3 separate regions of the Homo sapiens genome follow, and regions 1 and 2 are each reported to be linked to region 3. Evidence: microRNA targets listed by miRTarBase, many of them from high-throughput screens and not tested one by one. Region 3 holds a microRNA gene; each other region holds the end of a gene's coding sequence.

The links. Region 3 holds the annotated microRNA hsa-miR-3925-5p (AAGAGAACUGAAAGUGGAGCCU, at 2,564-2,585, shown strand). A microRNA usually pairs through its seed, bases 2 to 8, with sites in the 3' UTR of a target mRNA and lowers its output. Matches are read on the target gene's strand: a 7mer-m8 pairs with bases 2 to 8, a 7mer-A1 pairs with bases 2 to 7 and ends in A, and an 8mer does both.
Region 1: miRTarBase lists ZNF12 as a target of hsa-miR-3925-5p. Seed matches in the 3' UTR shown: 7mer-A1 at 7,479-7,485.
Region 2: miRTarBase lists KRT33B as a target of hsa-miR-3925-5p. Seed matches in the 3' UTR shown: 7mer-m8 at 8,008-8,014.

The regions. Positions count from the first base shown.
Region 1 is chr7:6,682,663-6,693,633 of GRCh38, forward strand. It overlaps ZNF12 (zinc finger protein 12), which reads right to left. Exons shown (of 5, transcript NM_016265.4): 5 at 5,771-10,041. The coding sequence ends at 8,186. Among named protein-coding and RNA genes, the nearest start is that of ZNF12, 19 kb to the right of the region's middle.
Region 2 is chr17:41,355,554-41,366,524 of GRCh38, forward strand. KRT33B (keratin 33B) reads right to left here. Exons shown (of 7, transcript NM_002279.5): 3 at 10,917-10,971; 4 at 9,839-10,000; 5 at 9,622-9,747; 6 at 9,226-9,446; 7 at 7,945-8,400. The coding sequence ends at 8,283. Among named protein-coding and RNA genes, the nearest start is that of KRT33B, 8.8 kb to the right of the region's middle. RefSeq lists an enhancer at 9,054-9,555.
Region 3 is chr6:36,614,383-36,625,064 of GRCh38, reverse strand. It overlaps MIR3925 (microRNA 3925), which reads left to right and starts at 2,553; the gene lies at 2,553-2,629. RefSeq lists an enhancer at 9,951-10,000.

The DNA.
Region 1 (10,971 bases), not on the chromosome of region 3:
GCTGCTCTCCCCGACCCCAGGGACATCACCATGGCCCACTGAGCATTCCTGGGGCCCCAGGCCTGCCTCATCTTCCTTCCAATTGTCTCCTTTCTAACTTTCTTTGGGGAAGGTGGCACCTAATTTGAATGCCCTAGAGGTTGACTGTTTACCTGCCGGCTTTACCCAGGGACTTGCAGCTTCCAGGTAGGGTAGGAGGAATTTTTTGTTGGAGGCATTTGCTGGATGCCTTCTCCATTGTTTCAGTGGTATTTCCTCTTAACAAATGCAAACGTAACAGCTCACACAATAGAACTTCAGTTTTCAATCACACCAAGTCCAAAATCAGCACTCTTGTTCAGAGAGTGGCTTCCAGGGACTTCAGTTTTTCTATAAATGGCTTCTCAGTTCTCCTTCAGGTTTCCAAGGTCAATCTGCTCATTAGCAGAAAGGGAGAGAGGATGGAGAAGGCACACTGGCTTTTTGGCCACCTCACCTGTGGCAAGTGATGCAACAATTCTGCCCCACTGGTGACAATGTGTCATGAAGGCCCCATTTGTGCAAATGGCTGGCAGGTCTCATCTGCCTGGACAGTTGTCTCTGTCATCTTTCCTCTGCTCTGGTCCTGACAGGCATCTAGGCAACTCTGTTGCATCCTAAGGCTTTGCTTTCCCATCTTACCTGTCCATTTGTCCAGCTGTCTACTCACGTCCTGAGGGCCAAAACCTAGTCACCTGGCCACAGCTAGCTAACAGGAAAGTGGAGAAATGAACTCTCCAGTTACAGCCTGAACAACACAGTGAGACTCTTTCTCTACAAAAAAAAAAAAAAAAAAAAAAAAAAAAAAAAGCTGGGCATGGTGGCACACACCTGAAGTCCCAGCTATCTGGAAGGGTGAAGGGGGGAGGATCACTTGAGCCCAGTAATTGGAGGTTGCAGTGGACTATGATTACACCACTGTGCTCCAACCTGGGAAACAGAGTAAGTCTGCCTCTAAAAAAATAAAGAAATCTCATTAGGTACCCAGCTGAGACTTGAGGAAGAGGGAATCCTACAAAGAGGGGGAACACTGTAGTGCAATTAGCAGTCTGTTGCAGAGTTCTGTCATGCGATGCAGATACTCATAGATGGAGTATTCGTTCAACAAAGCAAGGATGTGTCCAACAGTTTGAGCAGCCCAACCATTTCCATGAAAGCTGGCACAGGGCAAAGCTGCTAAAAAAGGCACAGACATCACTTAGGCACCTGAGCCATGAAAATGTGGCTAAAACTGAACAGACTATTTATTATCAACATTGGTTACTTTTTTTTTTTTTAAAGATGGAGTCTCTGTCACTCAGTCTAGAGTGCAGTGGCGCAATCTTGGTTCACTGTAACCCCTGCCTCTGGGTTCAAGCAATGCGATTCTCCTGCCTCACGCTCCTGAGTAGTGGGGACTATAGGTGACGTGTGCCATCATGCCTGGCTAATTTTTGTATTTTTAGCAGAGACGGGATTTCACCATGTTGGCCAGGCTAGTCTTGACCTCCTGACCTCAAGTGGTTCACCCAGCTCGGCCTCCCAAAGTGCTGGGATTACAGGTGTGATCAACGTTGGCTTCTGCAAGGACCTGGCTATGATTTGAATGGTTGTCCCCTACAGAACTAAAGGTAGCATTTTTAAGAGGTGATTGGGTCATGAGGGCTCTGCCCTATGAAAAAGTTAATGTGTTAATGGGTTAATGGATTAATGGGTTATCAGAGGAGTGAGTTAGTTATCACTATAAAAAGCCAGGTTGGCTCTCTCATGAGCCTCCTCACAATGTGATGCCCTCTGCACCTCAGCACTCTGCAGAGTCGCCGCCAGCATGAAGGCTGCTAACAGACGCAGCCCCTAGACCTTGGACTTGCCAGTCTCCAGAACTGTTAAATCAATGTCTTTCCTTTATAAATTACCCAGTTTTAGATATTCAGTTACAGCAACAGGAGATGGATTAAGACAGACCCCCTCTTATTTTACCTGATTTTCTTTCCTCTTCATACCAGACCCCACCCCATTCCCTCCCCCATAGGTGTTACATGAAATTTATGACGTTAAGTAGTGTTGTGAACCTATATAATAGATGTGTGTGTAGGTATGAGAAATTTTGACATTTTGTTTAGCTATATTAAATATTGTTGAATCAGTTTTCCCATTCATATCTAAGAGATTTTATCAAATGTGCTACATGCCAGTCTAGCATTTTACTTCTAACTGCTCACAGCCTTCTACTGCTTGTTTCACATTTTACTAACCTCTGTTAAGGATGTTCACCTAGGATGTCTCATAAATCTTGTTACGAAGAAATTCCAGTCTATAAAGACAAATTTGCAGCCAGGCGTGGTGGCTCACGCCTGTAATCTCAGCACTTTGGAAGGCCGAGGCGGGTGGGTCACGAGGTCAGGAGATTGAGACCATCCTGGCTAACACAGTGAAACCCCATCTCTACTAAAAATACAAAAAATTAGGCGGGCATGGTGGCGGGCGCCTGTAGTCCCAGCTACTCGGGAGGCTGAGGCAGGAGAATGGTATGAACCTGGGAGGTGAGCTTGTAGTGAGCTGAGATCGTGCCACTGCACTCTAGCCTCGGTGACAGAGTGAGACTCTGTCTCAGAAAAGAAGAAAAAGAAAAAAAGAAAAATTTGCTCAATCTAAAGTAAAACCAACAAGTAGAATATATGAGGATATTCAGCAAATAATAAAAGGGTAGTATACTAAAAAAAAAAAAAAAAAAAAAAAAAAGGATATAACCTATACCTGAAATTAGTGGTTACAAAATGCAAGTTGAAACAACAAAATACCCCATTCACATCCTTCAGAACAGCAAAAATTACAGAGACATATAGTAAATATTGGTGAAGATGTGAATGGTAATTGAAAAGGTTTCGTGCTATAAAATGACACCCATTCTAGGGAAGTGACCAGGCAGTATCTTTTAAAATTAATATTGGTCTGGCACAGTGGCTCATGCCTGTAATTCCAGTACTTTGGGAGGCCGAGACGGGCAGATCACAAGGTCCGATTGAGACCATCCTGGCCAACATGGTGAAACCCCGTCTCTACTAAAATACAAAAAATTAGCTGGGTGTGGTGGTGTGTGCCTGTAGTCCCAGCTACTCAGGAGGCTGAGGCAGAGGAATCACTTGAACCCGGGAGGCGGAGCTTGCAGTGAGCCCAGATAGCACGACGGCACTCCAGCCTGGTGACAGAGCGAGACTCTGCCTCAAAAAAAAAAAAAAAAAAAAAAAAAAAAAAAAAAAAAAAATTAATGTCTGTGCCTTATGCAATGTATACCATCAGTTTATATGTTCCAGGGAAGTTCATTCACATAAGGATATATATACAAGGAATTTCATCATAACAACAGTGCAGCAATTAGAAGTGCTGGTTTTGCAGGTAGAACATTTGATAAAATCATTTAGGTTATGAATGAAAAAAAGGATGGAACAAGATTTTCTTTTTTTTTTTTTTTTTTTGAGACAGAGTCTCACTCTGTTGCCCAGGCTGGAGTGCAGTGGCACGATCTCAGCTCACTGCCAGCTCCGCCTCCCGGGTTCACGCCATTCTCCTGCCTCAGCCTCCCGAGTAGCTGGGACTACAGGCGCCTGCCACCATGCCTGGCTAATTTTTTGTATTTTTACTAGAGACGGGGTTTCACCGTGTTGGCCAGGATGGTCTTGATCTCCTGACCTCGTGACCCACCCGCCTCGGCCTCCCAAAGTGCTGGAATTACAGGTGTGAGCCACCACGCCCAGCCCAGGATTTTCTTTATTTTTCCATTTGGCACCACATCAATCTCTTCCAATTTGAGGCCTTTCGTTCTTTTTTAATTACAAGAAAATTTTAATTCGTGTATTTTCCTCGTGTGTTGTCTCTTTTTCTTTTGGGAATTGTAGTATATGGTTATTTCTACTATCCTCTACATCTCAGTTTTTGATTTTTCACTTTCCATTTCTTCATTTCTTCTGGTGTCCTGGAGGAAATATTTGCCTTTACAACAGAGCCTGCTAACTCGTTCTTTGGGTGTATCGCATCTATCAATCTCATCTATTATTTCCTTCATGTCGATTATGCATGCTCAACAATCCACTTTTCTTTTGGTAACTATATTTTTACACACACCCCATTCATCTTTATATTTTTCTTCAAAGATACGTATTAAGGCGGGGCGCAGTGGCTCAAGCCTGTAATTACAGCACACTGGGAGGCCGAGATGGGGGGGATCACTTGAGGTCAGGAGTTCAAGACCAGCCTGGCCAATATGGTGAAACCCCGTCTCTACTGAAAATACAAAAATTAGCCAGGCATGGCGGCACGTGCCTGTAATCCTACTCAGGAGGCTGGGGCAGGAGAATCGCTGGAACCTGGGAGGTGGAGGCTGTAGTGAGCTGAGATCGCACCACTGCATTCCAGCCTGGGCGACACAGTGAGACTCCATCTCAAAAAAAAAAAAAGATATGTATTAAGAACATTTTGAAATCTGTCTGGATGCCCATATTTCATTAAGTTAGGCCTTCTCATGTAAATGGTATTGTGTACTGTCTCTTAGTACCAATTCCTCATGTGTCTGACTACTTTCCTGAATGTTTACTTGGATACTGTAAATCTTGGCTGAGAATGAATAGCAGGGAGAAGGCCTAATCCTCCTGTTTCTTCCTGTTGGGTGGGTTTAAGTGGAGGAGTGTGTTACAGAAAAAAATCCCCTATCACCAATGCCTGGAATGAGACCCCCCCCCGCCCCGCTTGACTGACCCTCAGGATACCACTTGACATGATCACCCTAAATACTGCCTCCTTAAGATGTCTCCAGTCGACTGGGTGTGGTCGCTCATGCCTGTGATCCCAGCACTTTGGGAGGCCGAGGCAGGCAGATCACAAGGTCAGGAGATCGAGGCCATCCGGGCCAACATGGTGAAACCCCATCTCTACTAAAAATACAAAAAATTAGCTGGGAGTGGTGGCTGGCACCTGTAGTCCCAGCTACTTGGGAGGCTGAGGCAGGAGAATCGCTTGAACCCGGAAGGCAGAGTTTGCAGTGAGCCGAGATCGTGCCACTGCACTCCAGTCTGGTGACAGAGCAAGGCTCTGTCCGTCTCAAAAACAAACAAAAAACAAAACGAACAAACAAAAAAATGAATGTCTCCAGTCGTAGCAATGACTGGCTTTTGAAGTGAGGAGAGGATGCTCTAATGGAACCTAAGTGCTCCCATAGGACCGAGCTGCTCTCCTATCTTATGAAGGCACCATGGTGGGCTATCATCTCCTGGGCATACTACAGAGGACCATAAATGTATAGGGAAAAAGATTACAATTCAACTACTCTTTAAGATTTGTTCTGTCTGCCATTACCTTTCCCGCAAAAGAGCCCCATTCACATCCTTAGTTCTCTGGACCCAAACACTGCTCTTATTTCCGTGGCACCTCCGGGCTTGCACTGTAACAAGCCAGCAGCCCATGCTAGTGCATCAATTTGGCAGGAATCATAGACTTTATATTCAATGAAGGGAAAATCAATTTATTTTTGATGTAGTTATCTCTGTGATAGGAAGAAAAAAGCAATATAATTTTAAGAATGTATTTCCTGGTGGGCTTCATTTTAAGATGGGCCAAAAAAATCTCTTAATTTATGAAAACATTGGCATCTTTTAAACTATAAACATGTTACTATGAACACTGACTACATTACTGAAGAGGCAGTTCAGGACCACTTATATACGTACCAGACCCTTTGATGTGCAGGCAATCCATAGGATAAGAAGAAAATGCCAAGCCATTTACAGTTTTCAAATATTTTACTGAAAATGCATATTGTACAATTAATGTATAATGACACACCAGTGTGAGAAACCTCCATAGGTATCATTTCCACAAATATGCTATGAATATAGAGTTCCTACACAAAACTATACAACTTACCAGATGTAATTCCTGTTACGTACCATACTCACAATCGTCTTGAAGAATATGGAGAAAAAGTGCTGAGTGACAAAAACAGGAGCCATGTGTGATTTTAATAAATGGAAAACACGGCATTTCAGCTCAGTGGTAAAGCAGTAAACCAATCAGATGCTTAGCTATCAAGTAATCATGTGAGAGGAAACAGAATTAGATCCTTACCTCATACTATATGTTGTCAGCTAACACTGTAGCAGTGGTATATGAATCACATAAATTACCTCCAACAAAATGTATTCCATGTATTAGAAAAAAGGAGGTATGCCTAACATTGTGTCACGTTCCAAAGGTGAATTTTGCAGGTCAACGATATGACAGTTCAAGGAAGCATACATTTTATTGTTTCAAGTTGATTTCTAATGCTCAAACTATTTACGTCAAAATTTACAGAAAATAAATCTCTATATCAACAGCTTAAAATAAATGACTTACCTAAAGTCCACTTCTGAACTGCATAACTCCTATAAAGGTTTCAGTCTGTACCAATTAGAATGTCTTCAGTTATTAGTAATAGAGCATCCTAAATCAACTGGCTTAAAAATAAGTTTAGTCTCTCACAAAAGAAACAGTCCAAAGGAGGAGTGGCTACAAGGCTGCTTGGTTTGGTGGCTCAAAGACATCATCCAGGTCTCAGGGTCTTTCAGTATTTCTGCTCAGGCCATGATTAAACTATAATCCATTGCTGAAAGATGGTTACCAGGCACCACATCCAGACAAGGTACTGTTCACCACAAGATTCCACTTCCCTTTGCTTGAATCCTTGGGCCTTTGAGAAAACCTTTTCCAGAAGTAGTCTGTCAGGTATATCCTTTGTTTTATGTCTAGAATTGGGCCCTGTGACCACTGTAAATCAACTGCTGGCAACGAGAAGGGGAGTGTCACTGGTTAAAACTAATCAGGATTTATCTCACTTCCTTTTGAGGATAAATGGATAACCAAACTCCGCCAGCAGAGTAAGGGAGTGACTAAGAAAGTCACTCGGCAATGTCTGCCACAGACCCTTGTTAGAATGTGTTCTTAATTCATTAACAGGAAGGAGTAGAGCACAAGGTTTAAAACCAGTACGACATCAAATGAAAACACAGTGAATTCCTATGTTAGAAAGTCACTCGGCAATGTCTGCCACAGACCCTTGTTAGAATGTGTTCTTAATTCATTAACAGGAAGGAGTAGAGCACAAGGTTTAAAACCAGTACGACATCAAATGAAAACACAGTGAATTCCTATGTTACACAGCATTGTGCTCTGCACTGTTATGTAAGTGTCCAAATAAAAAACAGTAGAAAAAAAAATAGATACAAATGGGAATATTTTAAGTATATCTTAAAACTGTATAGAGTGCAATGATTTTCTCACTCTTGGAAAACTGGCATTATTAATTTTAAATTACCAAGCAAAGTTTTCTATCTATTTTATACATGGATATTTATCTCTCTGGCTGACTCAGATACAGTTGAAAACATTATAAAAGCATTGGTCCTTTAGAGCTGATATTGTTCATTAAGAATGATCAATGCATTAAATCCTAGAGAAGAGTGCAAGAAAAAGTATACTTTATACCTATCAAATGATATTAATGTAGTGCTGTTTAGAATACTCTTACTATATGAATTACAAAATAAGGATACAACGTTTTTTCAAACATGATTCGAAGTGAACATACAATTCCTGTAATGTACTGTAATAAAAACAACCCTCTCCCCAAACATAAGTCCTATGTTCTTTGGGAACTGCTTACATGAGTTTAAGGTTACCGACTTAACTAGCTATCCTGATGACTTTACAGTTTCTATTTACACAAGAAGTATGTTTATTCACAGCAGGAATCTTCTATTTCTTTTTTTTTTTTCAAGTTTGCTATTGTATCAGAAACATATCTTTTAGTATTAACAGTTTCCAAAGGATTATGTCTTCCACATTCCTTATACTGATAGATTTCCCCTTGGCTATGATTTCCCTGATATGCAAAACAGTTCCAATCCATGGTGACATGTATATACATTCTTAATATTTATAAATTTTTACTTGTCTATAGTCTAGTATTGTTATACCATGTGGTCTTGTTATAATCATGGTTTCCATTCTGTGAGTCTTCAGATTATGAGTCCAACACACAAGGGGATGTCCACACTAACCTGTGTGAACTCTCTGATGTACAAGGTGTTTGACTTCAGGCAGGAGTTTCTGATTCACTATACTGAAAGGGTTCTCTGATATAAAATGAGGTCTGACTTCAGAGAAGCCTTCCCACATCTATTACATTCATATTGCCTCTCCTATGAATTCTCTGATGGCTGTTGAATGCTGATTTGTGGTAGAATTTTTTTCCACATTCAGTACACTCATAGGGTTTCTCTCCTGAATGAGTTCTATAATGTACAGTGAGGTATGACATCCGAGAGAAGGCTTTTCCACACTCATTACATTCAAAGGGTTTCTCTCCTGAATGAATTCGATGATGTATAGTGAGATAGGACATCTGAGAGAAGCACTTCCCACATTCATAACATTCGTAGGCTTTCTCTCCTGTGTGTGTTCTCTGATGTCGATTAAGGGCTGAATTCTGGCAGAAGGTTTTCCCACATTCACTACATTCATAGGGCTTCTCTCCTGAATGAATTCTATGATGTATAGTGAGGTATGACATCTGAGAGAAGAATTTTCCACATATATAGCATTCATAGGGCTTCTCTCCTTTGTGTATTCTCCGATGTCTACAAAGGGCTGAGTTCTGGTAGAAGGTTTTCCCACATTCACTACATTCATAGGGTTTTACTCCTGAATGAGTTCTATGATGGATAGTGAGGTATGACAACTGGGAGAATAACTTTCCACATTCATTACATTCGTAAGGTTTCTCTCCTGTGTGCACTCTCTGATGTCTCATGAGGGCTGAATTCAGGTAGAAGGTTTTTCCACATTCATTACATTCATAGGGTTTCTCTCCTGAATGAGTTCTATAATGTACAGTGAGATATGACAACCGAGAGAAGAATTTTCCACACTCATTACATTCATACGGTTTCTCTCCTGTGTGGGTCCTCAGGTGGGTCGTGAGAGTAGACTTGCGGCAGAAGCATTTCCCACATTCACTACACTTGTAGAGTTTCACACCTGTGTGAATTTTCTGATGGTCATTAAGTGCTGACTTCTGCGAGAAGGTTTTCCCACAGTCATGACAAACATAAGGTCTCTCTCCTGAATGTGTTCTCTGATGTTGTGTGAGGTGTGTCTTCTGGCAAAAGGATTTTCCACAATAACTACATTCATAGGGCTTCTCTCCTGAGTGAGTTCTCTGATGCTGAATGAGGTGTAACTTCTGGTAAAAGTTCTTCCCACATTCATTACATTCATAGGGCTTCTCCCCTGTGTGTGTTCTCTGATGCACAGTAAGGGTTCCCTTCTGGCAGAAGGATTTCCCACACTGATTACATTCGTAAGGTTTCTCTCCTGTGTGAGTCCTCTGATGTATAATAAATTTTGACTTTTTACAGAAGGATTTCCCACATTCACTGCATTCATAGGGCTTCATTTCCATATGAGATGTCTGATGTACAGTGAGGTCCGACATCTGGAGAAAGGCTATTTCAGATCCATTCCACTTATAGGGCTTTTCTTCCATGTGATTAACAAAAACAGTGTCCTTTTGGAAGGCTTTCTGGCATTCAATATATTCAAAAGGTTTCTCCAAAATACGAATTTTCTGATAAAGACTTTCTTCATTTAGAGTATAAGGTTCCCCATTTTGATTAAATTCATAAGCTTGATCTCCTGGATGAGTTTTCTCAAGCTTAATATGGAGGAGTGATTTCCCACATCCACTACATTCATCAGCTTTCATTCTTGCATAGCTTCCATCACTACTAATATATTCTGAAACAGACGTTAAACACTTTTCACATGAGTCACAGAGGCTATTTTTATAGGCTATTTTTCTTGAAGGAACAGGGTTCGTTTCTACATCAAAAGTTTTACCAGGAACATTACCTCTCTCTTCAATCAGGGTCTCAATGAACACAGTTTGCCTTGAAGGTTTATTTTCCTCTTCCTGGATTCTCTCTATTAGGTCATCAGTTTGCCAGACTTCATCTAAAGAGAGACAAAATTAATAAACTTTTGTACATCTTCCTATATATATATGATATGGAATGAGATTCATGATTTGTACACACGCATCTCATTGTGAGTAGATGCTAGCTTCATGAACAGATGAAAATAATTCCAAGTGTACTCTTCTCCTTTATGCTTTTGCTTAAAATTACACACACACAAACACACACACACACACACATCCCCCTCTAGGAATGGAGAAAGGGGGAAGTAAACTGACAAAAACACATGCACTTTTGATCTACTTTATATTTTGTTCAAAACTGGGAATAGAAGATAAAATATAACACAGAACAATGACTGGTAGGCGAAGAATGCAGGATGAATGGCTGACAGGGTAGAGCGATAAGGAGTGCTGTTGGACAAGGAGGGTCATAAGATGTATTCAATTAGGGATTCATTTAGGGGGAGGTAAAGCTGTACTTTATACCACATCACTTCATACCAAGTTGAGAGAGATTACAATTTAAGGCATTAGCACTGTATACTAAGATTTTTGTGGTAGCATTTTCACTAGACTACATCCTTCCAAACTATTTTGCCTTCTTTCCTCATTCCACATAGTAGAATAAACTAAATCTCCTCATGTTTAAAGGAACAGCCCTATAACCAGGGCATTCGCCCTGTAATTCTGTTTCACTTGGATGAAGAATCCCAGGAATGTATATATATATCCTACAGGAAATATAAAATAGTCCACAGAGCTATAGGCTTATCTTGTGAGGATAGCGATGAGATCAACTGGAAACTTCAGTATTCTAATGATGCTATGATTTAATGCTAAACTCATTCTGACCATGAAATTCTACTTGTTCCTATTTGAACAGTATATTTAATAGCATGAATTCTGGTGAGGTGACCTAGGGCAAGCTACTTAGCAATTCTCTGTAGTCAGTATCCTTCATCTGC
Region 2 (10,971 bases), not on the chromosome of region 3:
TATTAAGTCACAGCAATTGTTTAATTGTTGCATTTGTTCTGTCAGCTTAATTTTATTAATAATTGTTCCACAGAGCTTCACAGAAATATTTTAACAGAGTTCTAGGAGTCAATAAATTTAATTGTTTTACTTTTTTCATTAAATGACAAATTCATTTTTATAAAATTAAGTTGACTCCTAATAGATTTTGTCTGGGAATTGATGTAATTTTGTTAGTTTTTACATGGAATGTTGCATTTATTCATTTCTGTTAAGATATAAAATATGCATTTCTGCCTTATTATTCCCTTTATTCAATCACTTTTTATGTATCAAATTGTTGTTAGCTTTAATAGCTGAAATATCCCTTTCTTACAAAGCCAAATAAAGTATTGTCATCTCTGTTAGAATTGCATTTATTAAAGCCAATTCTAAAAAAATTAATAATAAAAGAGCCTTTCTTTTCTACAAAAGTAAAATACAACAAATTTTCAAACTCGATTGATAGGTTAAACATTAAATTAGACAAAGATGAAAAGAGAATAAGTCAACTGGAAAAGATCTCTAAGGAAATTTACCAGAATATAACACAGAAATATTTAGAGATTGAAAATATGAAAGAGATGACAGACAAGCTAGAATGTGAAGGTCCAAAATCTGTTTGAAGAAGCACAGAAATGGTGGTATGAAGAGCTTGGGGAAGTCTCTCCCCTAGAAAGACATCTATTAAGCCACTCAAAATTAACAAAGACATCAGTCAAAGGCTCTAGGCATTGATTAAAGGGCTTACAACAAATGAGAAGCATTTACTCAACAACCACACACAAAAAATGGAAACTTGATAAGAACACTGGGGGCTATGATGTTTAAATGAGGGACTCCATTATTTCTCATGTCTCTGCCTTCCAGAAGCACCATGTGCTGGGCAGCTGAGTGGCAGTTCCCAATCCTCCCAGCAGCCAATACACATCAGCAGATCCCATTTTTCATAGCTCACCCATTTCTAACCCCAGTTCCCTCTACATAGGGAGGATTCAGGCAGGGTGGCTTGAGGAGTGCAGTCCTTCTTTCCTGCACACCTCTGTGTTACAGGAGAGATGTTCCATTGGGCTCCACAGTTAAGATGGCAGTATCACCCAAGTTGATCTAAACTTTCAACAACACCTACCAAAATCCCAGCTAGCTGTTTTATAGAACTTGACGTGTTGTTCCTTTTATTCATGTGGAAATGCATAAGACCAGAATAGCCAAAACGATCTTGAAAAAGAAGAACAAAGTAGGGGGATTAACATTTCATGATTTCAAAACTTACTACAAAGCTACAGTAACACAGACAGTATTCTATTGGCATAAAGATAGACATACAGACCAACAGAATAAAATTGAGAGTCTAGAAATAAACCCTCACATTTATGGTCCATTAATATTCAACATAGGTCCCAATATAATTAATGGGGAAAAATAATCTTTTCAGTAAATAATGCTGGGACAACTAGACATCCACATGCAAAAGAATAAAATGTTTGACCCCTTTCTTACACCACAGACAAAAAAAATGACTCAAAATGGAGCACAGCCTAAATGTAACAGCTAAAACTAGAAAACTTAGGAAAAAAATGTAGAAGTAAATCTTCATGATCCTAGGTTAGGATCATGCACTTATTCCTCCATGATACCTGTTATATGTTACAACATGGATGGACCTTGAAACATACTATGTAAATGAAGCTAGCCAAAAAAACACATATTCTATGACTTCATTATATAAAATGTCCAGAACAGGCAAATCTAAAGAGACAGCAATGATTTCCTGGGCCTGGAGGGTTGCAGGGAACAGAGAGTGACTACTAATGGGTACAAGGTTTCTATTAGAGGTAATAAAATGTTCTAAAATGGTAGTAGTAGTTATAACTCTCATTATACTAAAAACCATTTGATTTTATACTTTAGATCTGTAAATTTTATAGTATATGAATTATATATGATACATTATACTTCAGTGAAGCTATTTTTTAAAAAAAGGAATTCAGAAGGAGAAAATGGAGTATAAGATATAAGTAATATTGAAAAAATGTAATGGCTGAGAATTTTCCACGGGTATTGAAATACATGAATCAATCAAGAAGCACATAAGTCCTAAGTAGGAAAACTAAACCAAAGCCATCCCTAGAATAACATAGTGAAACTGCACAACACTAAAGACAAAGAGATGATCTTAGAAAGAGTCAAAGAGAGAAAAAAATAGAAGAATTACCAACAATGGAAATACAGGTTAGCAATAGGCTTTTCAGCATCAACAACAGAATCCAGAAGATAATGGTATAATATTTCCAACACGCTGAAGGAAAATAGCTGCCAACCTAGAATTTTATACAAACTAAACCATCATGTAAGAGTGACCACTAAGAAAAGACATTTTCAGAAAATAACAGAGAAGTTGTCACTTATAGATTCTTAGTCTGCTGTGTGTTGCTACAGCAGAATTCCACACACTGGATAATTTATAAAGAAAATAAATTTATTTCTCCAGTTCTAGAGACTGGGAAGGCCACTATCAAGATGCTGGTATCTGATGGGGGCCTTCATGCTGCATTGTCCCATGGTAGAAGGTGTAAATGCAAGAGAGCATGACAGCCAGAGAGCAAAAGGAGGCCAAACTCATTTTATAACAAGTCCACTCTCATGATAACTACCCCCCTCCCATGATAAAATGACATTAATCCATTGATGAAGGCAGGGTTCTCATGGCCTAATCACTACTTGACCATTAAGTAGTAGTGAATGGTTTAAGTAGTAGTGAATGGTTGGAGGTGTCATTCAAACCATAGCAAATGCTATAAAAACTACCAAAGAATGTATTTCAGAAAATAAAAAGTTAAAACCAGAAAGGACGAATAAAGTCCAAGAAACACTGCAAACAAATAAACTGGTAACCATGTAGATAATTCTAAATAATAATAATAATGACCAAATTTTGGAGCATAAAAATAAGGTAAGATTGAACATGGCGACTCACATCTACAATCCTAGCACTTTCAGAGGCCAAGGTGAAAGAATCGCTTGAGCCCAGGAGTTCACGACCAGCCTGGGCATCATAGAAAGACCCTCGTCTCTACAAAAAAAAAAATTAATTAGCTACACATGGTGGCATATGCCTGTAGTCCCATTACTCAGGAGGCTGTGACAGGCAGATAGGTTGAGACAAGGAAGGTGAAGCTGCAGTGAGCTATGATCATGCCACTGCACTCCAGCCTGGGCAACAGATCAAGATCCTGTCAATAAATAAATAAATAATAAAATAAACCAAGATAAAAAAGTAAAGTAAAGAACATAAACAAAAATTTCTGACAGGGCACAGTGGCTCACACCTGTAATCCCTACACTTTGGGAGGCCAACACAGAGAATCCCTTGAGCCCAGGATTTTAAGACCAGCCTAAGCAACATAGAGAGACCTTGTCTCTACAAAAATAAAAAGTAAAAAATTAGCCAGACATGGTGGCATGCATGTGTGGTCCCAGCTACTTCGGAGACTGAGGCAGGAGGGTCACTTGAGGTTAGGATCCTCAGGATCTGGGAGGTTAAGGCTGCAGTGGGCCATTGTATTAATCCATTCTCACACAGCTATAAAGAAATACCTGAGACTAGGTAATTTACAAAGAAAAGAAGTTTAATTACCTCACAGTTCTGCAGGCTGTATAGGAAGCATAGAGGCTTCTGCTTCTAGGGAAGCCTCAGGTAGCTTCCAATCATGGTGGAAGGCAAAGGTGCAGCGAGGTGTCTCACATGGTGGGAGAAGAAGCAAGGGAGTGGGGGAGGTTCTACACACCTTTAAACAACCAGATCTTGTGAGAACTCACTCACCGTTGTGACAACAGTACCAAGGGGGATGGTATTAAACCATTCATGAGAAACTGCCCCCATGATTCAATCACCTCCCACCAGGCCCCACCTCCAACATTTGGAATTACAATTCAACATGAGACTTGGGCAAGGACAACATCCAAACTGTATCGGCTATGATTACACCACTGCACTCCAGCCTGGGTAACAGAGTTAGATCCTGTCTCTTAAAAACAAAAAACAAAAACATCTTCTATGGATCTTGTTTTTATGCAAGAAGAAAGAGATTAAATTAGATAGTGCTAAGTCAAGTGTGCACATTTAAAAATTAAGAACACATATTAAAAGGGGGAACAAAGAAAACAAGATCAATCCACAGGTGTCAGGAACTGAGGAAACAATAAGCAACAAAAAAAAATCATCCTTAATGGAAAGGACAAAGTAAGATTTTTAAAATAAGTCCAAAAAGTCAGTAATAAAATTACATGTAAATAGATTAAACCCTATTTCTCCTCATCAGACATAGAGTGCCCTCACCACCTTATCCAAAAGTTTCCACTTCCTATTCCCTTTCCTTGCTTTATATTTCCTCTCAGCACTTATTGCTTGACACAGTCATGCTTGTTTGCCTCTTTTTATTGTCTGTCTTCTTCCACTTGAAAGTAGGCTTCTTAGAGCAGGTCTTTGTTTTGTTCAGTGCTCTGCCCAACAGGCACCATCGTAAGCATTCAATGATTATACATTGGATTGAATTGATTTATAGAGAAGACACATGAATGACCAATAAAAAGATTTTTTAAATATTTAATTTCACTAGAAACTTTAAAATTATGAAGTGAGACAAGCTAGATTATACCCACATTTCATTGGCAACATTGCCTTGTCACACTAGATGGCCAATTGCAGGTCATCATGTCATGGTGAATTTTACAGCCAGCGTATCTTGCCAAGTCAGTAAGCTAAGTAGTGCCAACTGAAAAATCACAAGATTAATAAAGTTGGAAAGGAGAGCTTTATTTCTCATAAAAGGCTGCAGCCTCCAGGCTGACCATCCTGCAAGCTGGGAAGCGTAGCCTCTGGCAGAAGCCAAGAGTAAGCATTTTGAGGGAGGGAAATGTGAGAAAGGAATGTATGCTGAGTGAGGTGGCCAAATGCACTATTTAATAAGCTACAGGAGGAGTCATGAATATTTATGAAAAGACAAATGTAAGCATGTGCAATTGAGCTTCATGCCTCTTCATGGGTCGCATGTTCACAAATGGTGGCATTAGCATGATCCAAGGATGGAGTTTTTGGCCCTCTGATGTTGAAAGGTGAGGCAGAGGATGTGAAAACCCTCACCGCACATCCTCTGTAGACTGGCCAGACCACTCCATGGTTGGTGGTCTCTTATCAGGAAGGAATGCCAGCCAGTTGGTTGCTGTGTTGAAACTGCAAAAGGCGGGAGGAAGGAATCCAGTCACAGCTTCAGATGATGGGCTAAAGGTGATAAAGGAATGATTCATCTGTTTCTTATTTTCCAGAGCTGGTTTCTGCTTACTCCTTAGGAAAGAATTCTGGTTAAAAGTTAATAAGGAGGGGGCATACTGAGGCATGTCTGACCTCCCATCCTGTCATGGTCAGGGACTCTGTTTTTTTCTTTCTTTCCTTCTTTTTTCTTTTTCTTATTATACTTTAAGTTCTGGAATATATGTGCAGAACGTGCAGGTTTTTTACATAGGTGTACATGTGCCATGGTGGTTTGCTCCACCCATCAGCCCATCATCTATATTAGGTATTTCTCCTAATGCTATCCCTCCCCTAGCCCCCCACCCCCCAAAAGGCCCCAGTGTGTGATGATCCCCTCCCTGTGTCCACGTGTTCTCATTGTTCAACTCCCACTTATGAGTGAGAACATGCGGTGTTTGGTTTTCTGTTCCTGTGTTAGTTTGCTGAGAATGATGGTTTCCAGCTTCATCCTTGTCCCTGCAAAGGACATGAACACAACCTTTTTTATGGCTGCATAGTATTCCATGGTATATATGTGCCACATTTTCTTTATCCAGTCTATCATTATTGGGCATTTGGGTTGATTCCAGGCCTTTGCTATTGTGAACATTGCTGCAATAAACATACATGTGACTCTGTTTTTAAGGTTTCTCTTCGGTCCCCTTGGCCAAGACAGAGTCCGTTCAGTCAGCTGGGGGACTTAGGATTTTAGTTTTATTTCTCAGTGGTAACACTGACCCTTCCCAGATACTTCAGAAGAGCAATTTGGCTTTGTCCTGAGAAAAAGTGATCTCCCTGACACTCCTTTCTTTTATCCTCCAAGGAGAGCACCATGGCAGAGATAAGAACTAAGGACTGTTTTCCCTAGACCCATGTTTTCCGCTGACACAACATCAAACATAGAAACAAGTTTTGCTTAATATTTTATAAATTGAACACTAAAAACAAAGTGTATTTACTGTGTTGAGAACTTTGACCTCTCACTCACAAAGCATGCAACTGGGTATTTGGGAGGCACTGTTCCTGGTGAAGGTAGCTGAGAGGTAACTATCAGTGGACAGTAATCCCAGCATGTGTGGAGAACTGCCGGGATAAATTGAACAAGGGCGGTTTTCATGAGGCATGCAGGTAGCTCCAGGGAATGAACTCTCCCTGAGGAAAGAGAGAATAGAGTCCACAAACTGGGTCTAAGACATTCTGAGCAGAGGATGGAGTATCACTCAGACGGTCTTCCAAGGTCTCCTGTCTAAGCTGCAGCAGCATCAACAACAAAGGAGTAGATATTAAGTGAACTAGAATATGAGAGCACAAGAATTTAAGACTGGCCAGGTGCAGTGGCTCACACTTGTAATCCCAGCAATTTGGGAGGCTGAAGTAGGCAGATCACTTCAGCCCAGGAGTTCAAGACCAGCATGGATAACCCAGCGAAACCCCTCTCTACAAATAATACAAAAATTGGCCATGCATGGTGGTGCATGCCTGTAGTCCCATGTACTCAAGAGGCTAAAGTGGGAGGATAGCCTGAGCCTGGGAAGTTCAAGGCTGCAGTGAGCCGTGATCATGCCGCTGCACTCCAGCTGGGGTGACAGAGTGAGACTCTGTCTCCAAAAAAAAAAAAAAAAAAAATTTAAGAATTTAAGACTGACATGTGATGATGGAACCGGCATCATCACAGCAGGGGAGATAGTATCAGCTTCATCTCAAGGAGAGAAGACATAATTAGCAGATTGGTTAATCTGGGAATAATCTGCAGACTGAGGGAGTGGCCTTGGCACAAACCACAGCATGCACAGTGATGGGAGCCATTAACCTTGGTTAGACATCAGCAGGCACCAGTAGGGGCCAGGCACCAGTACCGTGGTCACTGTTAGCATTTGCAAACACCTGACTTGTAATATCCTAATTTGATTCTAAATAACTTTGAGGGGGAGGGTCCCGAAATTCATATGTAGTTCCCATGGTTAAACAATTCAAGTGAGAAAAGAAACACTTTCAAAATAGGTTGGGTATTGCTCAAATATGGAAGATGGCAAGGTGGTGCTTTTTAGTATTGAGTTATTCAGTATTTCACAAAGGAGAGTTTCAGAGATGTTTTGAGCACTAACAGCATTGTGTCTCCCCAGGAGGATGTATAAGCTCTGGGTGCTTGTTTGAAATCAATTTTGTCCTCTCATAATCACACCTCATGTGTAACTGACAAGCAGAGAGTGAACTCTGGGTTCAGTCCTGCCATTGATTCTTCCTCACTGTGAGGAAGAGAAAAAATTAGTAGCACAATTCCTGGCATTTGGTAGGTGTTCAATAAATATTAACTTCTGTCATCCCTGCTAGGGACTTAAAAGAATGAGTGGAACTGTCTAGAGATGCTCACCGTTGCATTTTACTGAGTAAGGTCCCATGAGAAATATGTTTATCATATTCAGACGAGGCCTCTTGTCCTAGTGATCCTACTTGTTTTATGCTGGCCTAAGTGGATGCTGGGACTCACTGTGCTTAATGAATGTTAATGAAGGTGATGAAGACCTTTTAGGAGATGATTAACCTATAAAGTCCTCCTTCTGCTTTCAAGTGGCTTTATAAGAAGCACACAGAGAGTCAACACTTTGAAAAGAATGAATACAAATGAGAATCATGTCTGCTTTGCAAGAGGAAAGTTTATTAGGCGATTTGGGGAACTGCAATAAAGGTAGAAGCAGCAGAGAGAACAAAACACCTCGTATGCCACTGTCACAGCTCCAACCTCTGACCATCAGAACTCAGACTGACTACAGGAGAGGGACCTGGGGTGAGGAGGATCAAGTAGCCCTAGGCTCAGAGTCAGACCCAAACGCTGGGCATTTGTTCTCCTTCCAGACCATGATTTGTGGTGATGCCTCGGGGTGGGGTCCGGTGGCTGATGGTTGTCAGAGAGGCAGAACTGGCCCACCGATGGTAGTTCTGTCTTCATGCTATACTTCTGCTGGCCCCAGGGTATCTAGTACCCAAAGGTGTTGCAAGGCCCACAGCGGGAACGAGGACCACAAGGATTGGTGACACAGGATCCAATGGGCTTTTCACATGCATTGGTGGTGGCGCAGGGGTTGGAGGGCAGCCTGGGATGCAGAAGCATTAGACTGTCAGCATGAGAAGGGTGATTCAAACAAGGGAGACTCAATCCAAAGAGACACAGAAACAAGCAGAACCCGTTCTCTGATGTCCTAGGAAGCCATGCCTTGTTTGGATCACTCCTTCTACAGAGTTCTGATACAGTGGCAGAAATGAGCAAAGAACATGTAAGGTGGAATCCCAGCCTTCCTTGTATGACCCTAGACACACAAGAAAGTCACTTCCTCCTTCTAAGCCTCAGCTTTCCCACCTGTAAGGTAGGACTGGTAGTACCAACCACACAGGATTATGAAAATTCCACAAGACTGTGTTCATAAAAATATTATGTTCGCTGGCAACTGCTGTACTGTTAGTTATTGATCATCAACCCTATTGACACTCAAATGCTCATCTATAAGAAGGTGATAATGATTCCCACTCTGCCTGCCTCAGATGATTCTAACAAGAATTAATGAAACGGTGGATTTGAAAGTTCTGTTTAAATCAGAAAAAGTGATCATTGTTACAGTTTCATTTTCCTTTTTGTGGTGACAAGACAGTCCTGAAGACAGAAAGATTTATTTGGCCATCAACATCCAAAAAATCTCTACTGGAGGAAGGAGTCAAGTCCCATGACTATCTTTTGTAAAAGAAAGTATCTTTAGCCCAGATAATGTTAGCAACAAATATCCTACACTTCCCACGGCTGTAATATAAAACTCTCGCCTCTACAGACAGATTGGCATCTGAAACTTGATTTTCAAAGTCTCTGTTTTATCCTACAGTAGAACAGTGCCTGTCCCTTGCAGGGGTGCCGTCCGCCAGGTACTCACTTGCAGTCCTCGCTCTCCAGCAGGCTCCGGTATGTGTTGATCTCACACTCCAGCCGCGCCCGCACGTCCAGCAGCACCTGATACTCCTGGTTCTGCCGCTCCAGGTCACTGCGGATCTCCGCCAGCTGGGACTCCACGTTGGTGATCAGGCTCTGCACCTGGGACAGCTGGGAGCTGTAGCGGGCCTCGCTCTCTGTCAGCGTGTTTTCCAGAGAGTATCGCTGTGGTGGGAAAGATCAGGAATGTCAGAGAGCTGCTCCTTATAGGGTTCCTCCATGGGGTTCGAAAAAACTCACAAGCTCCAAGAGCTAAGAAGAGTGTGTGGCCCCAAGGGCATCCCCAAGACTCTGCCTCCCAAGTTCCCATCGCTCACCAGCAGGTCTGAACAATACACACCAGGTTGTGCTGGGCCTGCAGCTCGATCTCCAGGGCATTGACTGTGCGTCTCAGCTCGATGATCTCCGCCTGGTAGGACTGCAGCTGCTCCGAGCTGGATACCACCTGCTTGTTCAGCTCCTCGGTCTGAAACACCCAAGGGGAGAAAGGATCAGACCCTGCCTCCGGGGCCCTGGGGGGCCTCGGGTCCTGAGTGGCCACGTGCTTAGATGCCCACCTGCGTGGCGAACCATTGCTCCACTTCCCTGCGGTTGGTTTCCACCAGGGCCTCATACTGATTCCTGGTCTCGTTCAGGACCTGGTTCAGGTCCACAGCGGGAGCAGCGTCCACCTCCACGTTGAGGCGGTCTCCAAGCTGGCAGCGCAAGGTGTTGACTTCCTAATGGAGAAAAGGGAAGAAATAAACCCACAGAAAGAAGTCTTTCAATAACTTCTTTGAGGCAGTTCAATATAATGGGAAGAGGATTGCATTGCAGCTTAGGAAACATGAGTTGAAGCCCAGCTGTCACCTCTGGAAATTCTGGCCTCTTCTCTGAATCCCTTCCCTCATCTGTATGATACGGCTGCTTCATTAAATGATTGCTAATATTTCTACCCAGTCCAAGATTCTATCATTTCTTTCTTATTTCCCCTTTGCTCAGTGATAAGCCTGGCATGATAATTGGCTTACAATTGTTGCTACTTAAATATAGAGAAACCAGGTTTCATTCCTCCTATTTATTTCATGGGATACTACTAGAGTATGACACATGTTTTCATCATGAAAACGTCTAATGTTTGAGACATGCATCTGATTTCGTAGTATTGCATTCAGCCATGAGATCTGAATCAACCATTATTTGAGTTATTTCATTTCTCCCGTTTTTCCCATCCATCAGTTCATCCATCCATCCATTCATCCATCTATCCATTTATCTAGCTTGAGTTCTAGTTATCTAGGTGAAACAGAGTGTAAGAATGTTTTCTATCTCCTTCCAGTCTTGGTCATTAACCTACCTGGCACCTCTTCAGAAGCTAATAGATAGCATCAAACAGTAGACAGTAGTTTAAAGATATTTGTGTGACCTTTCAGCCATACATGTCTGGTCCCAAGGGGAAGTAGGTCAGCTTACCACACTCCTTTATGTAAAAAAGGTAAGCTGTCACTCATTCCCCAACAAGCCCCAAAGTATGTTTTGAGCAACCAGCAAAATGTTGTTAGGCCTAGGGTGCTTAGCAAATCAAATCCTACCTTATCCTATTCAGGGGGATCACAGAGCTCTCAGTATTGGGATATTGGGGGCTGGGACTCTTACCTGCTCATGGTTCTGCTTGAGGGACAGCAGCTCCTCCTTCAGGGACTCCATCTGG
Region 3 (10,682 bases):
GACTGGGAATCAGCCTGACAGTTCCCTCCAGGCAGGCTTGTCCGCTGCCACCCCTGTCCCCACCGCAGGGATGGGACACTCACCACTTCTTGAGAAAGCCCATTTCGCCATTGGGAAGGTTTATTAAACATGAAATGAGGGAAAAGCCTAGTAGCTCCATCGGATTGGGAAGAATGGCAAAGAGAGACAGGAGTCATTTTCTAGAAAGCAATCTTCACACCTGTTGGTCCTCACCCATTGAATGTCCTCACCCAATCTCCAACACAGAAATGAGTGACTGTGTGTGCACATGCGTGTGCATGTGTGAAGGTATGAGTGTGAATGTGTCTATATGGGAACATATATGTGATTGTATGTGTGTAACTATGTGTGACTGGCAGCGTGGGGAGTGCTGGTTGGGAAGGTCCTCTCTGGAAGGCTGGGAGTGCAGAGGACAAGAGACTGACCTTGCTGAGTGGAAGCCATGGGCCAGGCTCTCCCCAGTCCTCATTGCCTAGAATGTCTTCTCCACACCCACCAGACGAGTACCACTCACACCCTAGACCTTCTTCTAAGTGCATCACGTACATAGCTCTTTTCATCCTCACACACTGCCGGGAAGGTAAGCTTGGTTACTTCTGCCATTTTACAGGTGGGGAAACTGAGGCTAAGAGAGGTTAACTTCTGCCGGCAACACTTGGAAATGGTTGGTATGGTTGGAAGCCGGCACCGCTGGGCCCAGGGTCTGGGGCTAAGTGGAATTCAGTGTGGGTCTTTCCTTTCCCATTAGAACCCCTCAAGTGTCAGACCCTCTGCCCCTCCTCGCAGTACTTCCGCCTTGCCTCATGCCTCCCAGGCACTATCTCTGTGAACTTTGAGCTCTGCCCCTATTGCCCAAGAAAGGCTCGCTGATGAGGAGGAAATTGCCCAGGTTTATAGTTTCCTCCCAGCCTCTCTGGCGACACCTGAGCCTGCTGCTTCTCCCCTTCCGCCTCCCGCCACAGTCATACACACAGCCACTCATGCATACTCACATCACACCACACTCCAACCAGCACTCCCCACGCTGCCAGTCACACATAGTTACACACATACAATCACATATATGTTCCCATATAGACACATTCACACTCATACTTTCACACATGCACACGCATGTGCACACACAGTCACTCATTTCTGTGTTGGAGATTGGGTGAGGACATTCAATGGGTGAGGACCAACAGGTGTGAAGATTGCTTTCTAGAAAATGACGCCTGTCTCTCTTTGCCATTCTTCCCAATCCAATGGAGCTACTAGGCTTTTCCCTCATTTCATGTTTAATAAACAAGCCGCTCTTGCGGAACGATGGTTGGATCCCTCATCAACCACCACACACTCCCGACCCCACCCTCCTTCCTGCCCCTGCCAGCAAACCTGACAGGTCCAAGGCCTGGAATTGAGAACCTGTTTTCTTCCCCATCCTGCCCCCTTGTGACGGGAGCCTAGAACTGCTGGCTCTGCGCCCAGAGGTTAACCACATTTCTCAGGAAGGTTCCAGTAGCCAGGCGGGTTGTTAGGAGAGGTCTGTATCCAACTCCCCTCCTCCTGCAGAGGGGCAAACTAACTAAATGAAGATCCACTCTTCCTTCACCCCGATCCTCAGGGCCACCAGAAGAGCTGACTGCTGTTTCACAGGCACACTCCACTGGCACAGGAGATGGGTGGGTGTGCCAACTGGACCAGCATATGGCAGGACCCTTATGATGATCAAGCCTACAGTCATCATACAATCACAGGATTGTTGCCCTATATCCATATTTTCTTGACACCCTAATAGTGCATTTGGCTAAACCTTGGTGAAATAGGCATGACAGCATGTGACTGTGCCGCCTCTGACACTGACCACCCAGGCCTTTCTCTTCACTCCTTCCCTGAGGCCTTGGAGGGTCTGCCTGTGGCCTTTAGTCTGGTGTTTGAGCTCACAGAACTGGGTGTGGTTGACCCTCCCTTTGTCCTCACCCCCTCCACACACACACAGGGATGCTCTTGCAGGCTCCTGGTTTGATGAGGCAGCCCAGGATGTGTCCCCACCTTTCCTCTTTGAGCCCAGGGCCAGTGTATTTCAGGCCGAGTGATTTCACCCAGGGTCTTGTTTCCATTCCATTTTATTTTTAGTCCTCAGGTGCAGTGGGATGAGTCCCTCCTATTCCCCAGGTGATGGCTGGCTGTCATCATTGGTCCTGACTAGTCACCTCTTGCTTCATGTATTCCCCCCTCACTCCATTGTCATTTCCATGCCCCCACCCCACAGGCAGCCATTCTACTATATCCTTTATTTGTATGTGTTCTTGTGCAGTGCTTTGTAGGCATGGATTTTGGTACTGCAAAGTGCTGCATTGTACACATAGTATTGCATAGTGTTGCCTTATTACCATTTCTGTAACAAACTGAATGTGTTACTTTATGTTGGAGCGTGGTGGAGCCTTAAGAATTTATTGAGAATCTCTGCATTAATGATTATGAAAGTGACTGCAAGTTTTCGCTGAGTCTTATTTCCTGAACATAAACTCAGGATCCTGGACCATGGTCATGTGGGAATAGCAAGAGAACTGAAAGTGGAGCCTGTCACATCTCCAGACTCCAGTTTTAGTTCTCTTGCTATTTCCACCACATCTTTCATCACTTCCTCCACTAAAGTCTTGAACTCCTCAAAGCCATCCACGTGGGCTGGAATCAACTTCTTGATGATGGATGAAGCCACTTCCTTGTGGCTGGAACCAACTTCTGTGTTTCCTAAAATGGGGACAGCAATAGTACCTACTCTCTAAAATTTGTTGTGGGCTAGGTGCGGTGGCTCACGCCTGTAATCCCAGCACTTTGGGAGGCCGAGGCAGGCAGATCATGAAATCAGGAGATCGAGACCATCCTAGCTAACATGGTGAGACCCTGTCTCTACTAAAAATACAAAAAATTAGCCGGGTGTGGTGGCGGGCGCCTGTAATCCCAGCTACTCGGGAGGCGGAGGCAGGAGAATCACTTGAACCTGGGAGGTGGAGGCTGCAGTGAGCCAAAATCACGCCACTGCACTCCAGCCTGGGCGACAGAGGGAGACTCCGTCTCAAACAAAAAAGAAAATATTTTTTGTGAAGATCAAATGGGTTAATACAAGTGAAGAGTGCCTGGCACTACTAGTGCTCAGTAAACATTGTTTATGGATGCTTTCTTTTTTTTTTTTATTAGGCCTTATAATAGCCCTATGAGGTAATATAATTAGTTCCATTTCACTGATGAAGAGACCAAGGTCCAGGGAACAAAACAACTTGCCCAGGTTTGCATCATGATACTGCCAGAAGCTAAATCTAGATCTTCAGACCCCAAGACGGCCACAGGACCTCGATCCCCATGTGTTCCCTAGAGGTGTTGTGCAGAACCTTCCTGATGCTGATCTGGATGACGAGCGGTCACCCACAGGCTGCTGGAGATGATTCCTGGTCGGGTGGCCCTCAGTCCTCCTTGATCTTTCTCCCACACTGTGATCTTCACACCCACTGGCCATTCCTGAGAAAGAACCTGCCTTCTCCAGGGCTTTTGTGGGTGCCCATGTTCACCAAGCAGCCTCTAAAGTGATGTGAATCCTAGCGCCAGGCCTGGTAGTAGCACATATGCATGGTAGATGCGTGCTGGAAAAGCAGGAGCCCTAGGAGCCTGCCTTGGGTTCTAGTCCTAGCCATCCATTGCCTCACCCTAGGGTCTAACTTTCTATCTCTAACCTTCAGTTTCCACATCTGCACAATGGGGATAGGAACTTTTCTGTGAGGATCAAGTAGGTTTTAGGAGACTATTCCAATCTTGATCAAATACTAACAGTCGCCTGAACCCTGCAGAACAATCCCTGCTTGTTGTACAGTCTGATGCCACCTCAGATGAACCATTACCCACTGTATGCACTGAACATTTTCCCCTCCCCTCCAGGAAGATCATCCTCTGGATCTGCCCTCCTCACAACGGCCTTATTGCTTTTCTGGAGTCACCGAATCTTAGAATATCGGTGCTGGAAAAGAACTTGAGGACCATCAGTCCCAGTGTGGCAAACTTATCTCCTTATCAAGGACCCCCGCTGCCTAAAGCAGTGGTTGACTCAGTCATTGCTCCCCTCACTGCAGGGTGCAGTGTGAAGAGGGGACAGATCATCCTGTGAGTTACAGGCCACCTTCAGCCCAAATACCCCCTTTCTACAGATAGGCAAACTGAGTAAATGATGATCCCAACTTCCTTCACCTGACCCTCGCCTCAGGGCTACCAGGAGATAGGGACGCCATGTTGGCACAGGAGATGGGTGGGTATGCCACCTTCCCCATGGGCAGGCCCCTATTGCGGTCACATCTCAAGTGACTACTTACAACCATCAAACAATTAGGGTTTACTGGTGGATGTCTTTATCTTTTTGACATTCTGTAGAATTATGCTAACAGATTTTGGAAAACAATTTGCCCAAAATCTACGTGACTTCATCCTTTGATTTTTGTTTGTTTGTTTGAGACAGGGTCTTGCCCTTCACTCAGGCTGGAGTGCAGTGGCGCCATCACAGCTCACTGCAGCCTTGACCTTCCAGGCTCAAGTGATTCTTGTGCCTCAGCCTTCCAAGCGGCTGGGATTACAAGCGTGCACCACCACGCAGCTTTTTTGTTTTTTTGGTTTTTTTTTTGAGATGGAGTCTTGCTCTGTCACCCAGGCTGGAGCGCATTGGCGTGATCTCGGCTCACTGCAACCTCTGCCTCCCGGGTTCAAGCGATTCTCCTGCCTCAGCCTCCCAAGTAGCTGGGACGACAGGTGCGTGCCACCACACCCAGCTAATTTTTGTATTTTTAGTAGAGACGGGGTTTCACCATATTGGTCAGGCTGGTCTTGAACTCCTGACCTCATGATCTGTCCTCCTCAGCCTCCCAAAGTGCTGGGATTACAGGCATGAGCCACCGCACCCAGCCATGCCTGGCTAATTTTTGTATTTTTAGCAGAGACAGGGTTTCGCCATGTTGGCCAGGCTGGTCTCGAATGTCTGGCCTCAAGTGATCTGCCTGCCTCGGCCTCCCAAAGTGCTGGGATTACAGACGTGAGCCACCACACCTGGCCTTAATTTTTGTATTTTTTGTAAAAATGCAGTTTTGCCATGTTGCCAGGGTGACTTCACCCATTTTCAATGCAGAATTTTAACACAAGAGTGTACTTTAGCCAGTGAAATGTGCACGCTTACTTCTTTTAGGAAAAAACTGAAATATTTGCTGGGAACCCCACAACAGTTGCCACAGGAAAGACCAGAAGAAAGCAAAAACAGGTAAGGAGCATCCTTTAAAGTGAGGGGAGGCCGGGCTCATGCCTATAATCCCAGCACTTTGGGAGGCCAAGGCGGGCAGATCACTTGAGGCTAGGAGTTCGAGACCAGCCTTTAGCAACATAGCCAAACCCTGTCTCTAATAAAAATACAAAAATTAGCCGAGCATGGTGGCACGCACCTGTAATCTCAGCTTATTGGGAAGCTGAGGCAGGAGAATCACTTGAACTCAGGAGGCAGAGGTTGCAGTGAGCCAAGATCGCACCACTGCACTCCAGCCTGGGTGACAGAGCAAGACCTTGTCTCAAAAAAAAAAAAAAAAATGTGAAGGGAAAGCCCACAATGATAGCACTTTCATGCTGGCAAGCCCACGGATGGTGCATACTCAGTGTCTCTGGGGGAGCAAAACTCAGGAGCCGACAGCCCTCACCTAGTCAGGTGGTTTATTCACAAACTGTCCACTCCCAGGACTTCAGGATGGGGCAAGTCACAAAGCAGGATGTTTTCAGTGGGGAATGTTTAAGTCCTTCAAGGAAAATACCGTATCATGAGCTTTTCAGGGACAGGTATCTGTGACCCACCTGTGTGCAATGCCTCTGTGGTCCTGATATTCTGGTGCTGGGCTTGGACTCAAGCTGTGGGTTTCAACCCAGCTTAACCTTATCTGCATGACCTTGGGGAAGGCACTTCCTCTTTCTGGAATTCAATTGTCTCGTTTGCAAAGTGGGACCATGATATCATCTCTACAAAACCCTCTAAACACAAATGAAGAAACTTCCCATACCAAGCACCCAGAATAAAGAAAAAGGCTAGAAAAACCAGAAGCTATTGAATCACTTTTTTCCCTTTTTTTGCTTATATGTGCTAATTTTTCTACCATGGTCATGGGTTACCTTTGAATTATTATAAAAGTGAGTAATTAAAGGGGGTGGAGCAGAGCTGATGTGAAGGAAAACGCTGAGCTTGGCAACTTTCAGGGCCTCCTCTGTGCCAGGCACAGTTGCTGATGCTTCACCTATGTGACCTCATCTCTTTGTCCCAACAAGCCTGAAAGGGAGGCATTATGGCTCCTACTTCCAGCTGGGGAGACTGAGGTTCCCGAAGGAGTCAAGCCCTCACTATCATGAGAGCCTGTGGTGATGGTGATGTACCAGGAAGGCGCATACAGATGTGTGGCAGCAGCAGCAAGGTGAGCACTGCAACTCTGAGAAAGCGGAGCCTCCCCCCTTTCTTGAGACACTGCCTCAGAGCCTCTGAGAAAAGCCTTCCCCACTGGTGATACGCCACGAACCTGCTCCTGGGGGACCTGCTCTGGATTCTTTTAAGATCAAAAAAGTTTATTATTAAATAGCAGCATCGTGTCCAGTCAGAAAAGCTTAAGTGTATGAACGTCCTTTTTTATTTTATTTTTTTTGAGACAGAGTCTCCGTCTGTCTCCCAGGCTGGAGTGCAGTGGCGTGATCTTAGTTAACTGCAAGCTCCGCCTCCCGGGTTCACGCCATTATCCTGCCTCAGCCTCCCGAGTACTGGGACTACAGGCGCCCACCACCACGCCCGGCTAATTTTTTGTATTTTTAGTAGAGGCAGGTTTTCACCATGTTAGCCAAGATGGTCTCGATCTCCTGACCTCTCGTGATCCGCCCACCTTGGCCTCCCAAAGTGCTGGGATTACAGGCATGAGCCACCACGCCCAGCCTGAATGTACTTTTAAAACATGTTTCTGCTGCTGGGCGCGGTGGTTCACGCCTGTAATCTCAGCACTTTGGGAGGCCAAGGTGGGTGGATCACTTGAAGTCAGGAGTTCGAGACCAGCCCGGGCAACATGTCAAAACCCTCTCTACTAAAAATACAAAAATTGGGCGTGGTGGCACATGCCTGTAGTCCCAGCTACTTGAGAGACTAAGGCAGGAGGATCACTTGAACCCAGGAGGCAGAGGTGAGCCGAGATTGCGCCACTGCACTCCAGCCTGGGCAACAGAGCAAGACTCTGTCTCAAAAACAAAAACACATGTTTCTGCATAAAAGCATTGTTTGTATGCCATATTCTCCTTCTATTGAGTAGCAACACAATTCATCCTCTAAACAAAAAATGCTAATTATACTTTGCTAAAACATATCTCCAAATATGGATTTAATAAAATGCTTTTCTCAAAAAAGAAAATAAAAAGGGTCCTGCCATTTATAAGTAGATTGCTTCTTTCAAAAGGCAAATGCCAATAAATGACACTTCATCCTGGAGATGTGTAGTCCACCTGTTCTGTGCCCCTGAGCCACCACCTGTTGCCAATGTGTCTGCAGCCAACAGGGCTAGTCCTAGTAACACGGTGCCCCACCCCACACCACTGCCCCACCCTGATACTGAAACTGCAGCTGATGGGGTAATGCTCTGAGCTGCCCAGAGGAATGAGGCAGACAAGTCCTGCTGTGGCCTGGAAAACCCTCAAAAGAGTCAGTGCAATTCTCAAGATCACAGGTATCTGCCTGTTGCTCAAGAGTCCCAACCTGGCCACAGTGAGGGTAGTGAGTGATAGAACAGGGGAAAGGAGACAGCCTGTGGCGCTGGCTCGGGCACAAACCACTGGTGAATCAGACCTGAATTGATTCCTGGAGCCAAGTACTGTTTGCCATCTGTCTGAGGCTTTATCTGCCAGGGAGATGGGCAAGTGGCCAGAGCCCTCTCAGGGTGAGGGGTTGAACAGCCAGGCTCCAGCACACTGCCATACCAGATGTCATGACTGGTCACTCAGAAAGGGCACCGGATGGGGTGGCAGGAGGCCGAGCCCCTGGAGATGGCCCCCCTAGGCTCCCTGAGTCTCAGCCACCCCCTCCTCCTCCCTGGGCCTCAGGCTCTTCATCTGTAGCATGAAGGTGTGGGCAGTATAAGGACTTTTCCCACTATGGCTGCAGAGGGCTCACAGGCACTTGGTTGAGTTGAAAATATATACAGGTCTAACAATTTTTAAGTTTTCTGTTTTTTCCCCCACATAAAACCTATTCAACCAAATGCCTATAAACATGTTGGGGTGATGTTCTTCTGACGTCTGTGCTTCTAGGTTGTTTATGGGATGGACCTTCCTATCCTGTCACCTCGGGGATTGCAAAATAAAGTGTTAAAAAATGTTACCATTTGCACTTCTCTATTCAACCAAAATAACAGAAGGAAATTGGATTTCTCTTGTCTTTATGAGCCAATATTATTAGAACCTATACTTTTTATAGCTATACCATTTTTAGCTGTTTTCTGTATTCTACATAAGATTTCATTCCAAAAACTTTAACTATGTTTAAAGTTTGAAAATCACCATCCCTGGCTGGGCATGGTGGCTCACGCCTGTAATCCCAACACTTTAGGAGGCCGAGACAGGCAGATCACCTGAGGTCAGGAGTTCCCGACCAGCCTGGCCAACATGGTGAAACCCTGTCTGTACTAAAAAAGCAAAAATTGGCCGGGCGCAGTGGCTCACGCTTGTAATTCCAGCACTTTGGGAGGCCAAGGCAGGCAGATCATAAGGTCAAGGAGATCGAGACCATCCTGGCTAACACGGTGAAACCCCATCTCTACTAAAAATACAAAAAATTAGCCGGGCGTGGTGGCGGATGCCTGTAGTCCCAGCTACTCAGGAGGCTGAAGCAGGAGAATGGCGTGAACCCGGGAGACAGAGCTTGCAGTGAGCTGAGATCGCGCCACTGCACTCCAACCTGGGCGACAGAGCAAGACTCCGTCTCAAAAAAAATAAATAAATAAAAAATAAAAATTAGCCAGGCGTGGTGGCAGGCGCCCATAATCCCAGTTATTCAGGAGGCTGAGGCACGAGAATTGCTTGAACCCGGGAGGCGGAGGTTGCAGTGAGCCGAGATCACATCACTCTACTTCAGCCTGGGAAATAAAGTGAGACTCAGTCTCAAAAAAAAAAAAAAAAAAAGAAAAAGAAAAAGGAAATCACCATCCCTGATAATCTCTAAGGTCCCTGTAGCTCTGACATTCTACTAGTCTACCTACCATTCTAAAGCTCTGAACAAATTCATAGGGTTTTAAACCTGTCAACATGGAACCTTTTAGTTTCCTGCCTTTGTTTTTATGCACTTGGCTCTTCATATATCCAACTTCCTATCCAAATCCCATTCTTTCAGCACTTCAGTAAAACCCCTTCCTCACAAAGCACTTAACATGGGTCTTGGATCTAAGCCTTGGTTTCAAAATAGGGTAACAGAGCCTCCCTCAAGTGGTTAGGTTTAAGTGAGTAGGTAGTATGTATATGTAAAATGTTTAGCAAAATGCTGATACATAAAGCTCAAGGATCAGTAATTACTGTTATGATTATCTTTGTTAATGTGTTATTATTGTCATGGTGGAAAAGTCAGTGCAGACTCAATTCCCTGAAGAGATGTGCAACCTCAGGCAAAAAGTCTGGCCCATTCTCGATGGTGCAGTACTGCCTCCTAGTGGGTAGCTGGGCATTTTTTTTTCTTTTTTTTTTTTTTTAGACTCCTGTCCCCCAGGCTGGAGCGCAGTGATGCAATCACGGCTCACTGCAACCTCAATTTCTCAGACTCAAGCGATCCTCTCACCTCAGCCTCCAGAGTAGCTGGGACAACAGGCACGTGCTACCACACCCGGCTAATTTTTTATTTTTAGTAGAGACAAGGTCTTGCTATGTTGCCCAGACTGACTCCTGAGCTCAAGCAATCCTCCCACCTCTGCCTCTCAGCCCAAGTGCTGAGATTACAGGCATGAGCCAGTGCGCCCAGCCAATTTTTTTTTTTTTTAATGACTGTCACACTGGCCAGGGAGGTTAACTGGCTGTAGGGTGAAGAGGACAGAGATATTAAATGTCTGGCACACAAAGAATTGCCCATGCCCACAGGACTGAATCCATTACAGGTATAAAATATAAAAAGTGCTTTAAATTTTTCGAAACCTGGCTGGGCACGGTGGCTCACGCCTGTAATCCCAGCACTTTGGGAAGCTGAGGCAGGTGAAATCACCTGAGGTCAGGAGTTCAAGATCAGCCTGGCCAACATGGTGAAACCCCGTCTCTACTAAAAATACAAAAAAAATTAGCTAGGCTTGGTGGCAGGTGCCTGTAATCTCAGCTACTCGGGAGGCTGAGGCTGGAGAATCACTGGAACCCAGGAGGCAGAGGTTGCAGCGAGCCAAGATCGCGCCATTGCACTCCAGCCCAGGTGATGGAGATTCCATCTAAAAAAAAAATAAAAATTCAAAAGCTGGGGAACTTAGCACAAGAAAACATTATGTGCACATTTCACATATAGACATACCTCAGATATATATGGGTTCAGTTCCAGACCATGTCAATAAAGCAGGTCACACAATTTGTTTCCCAGTGTATATAAAAGTTATGTTTACATTGTACTGTAAGTGTGCAAAAGC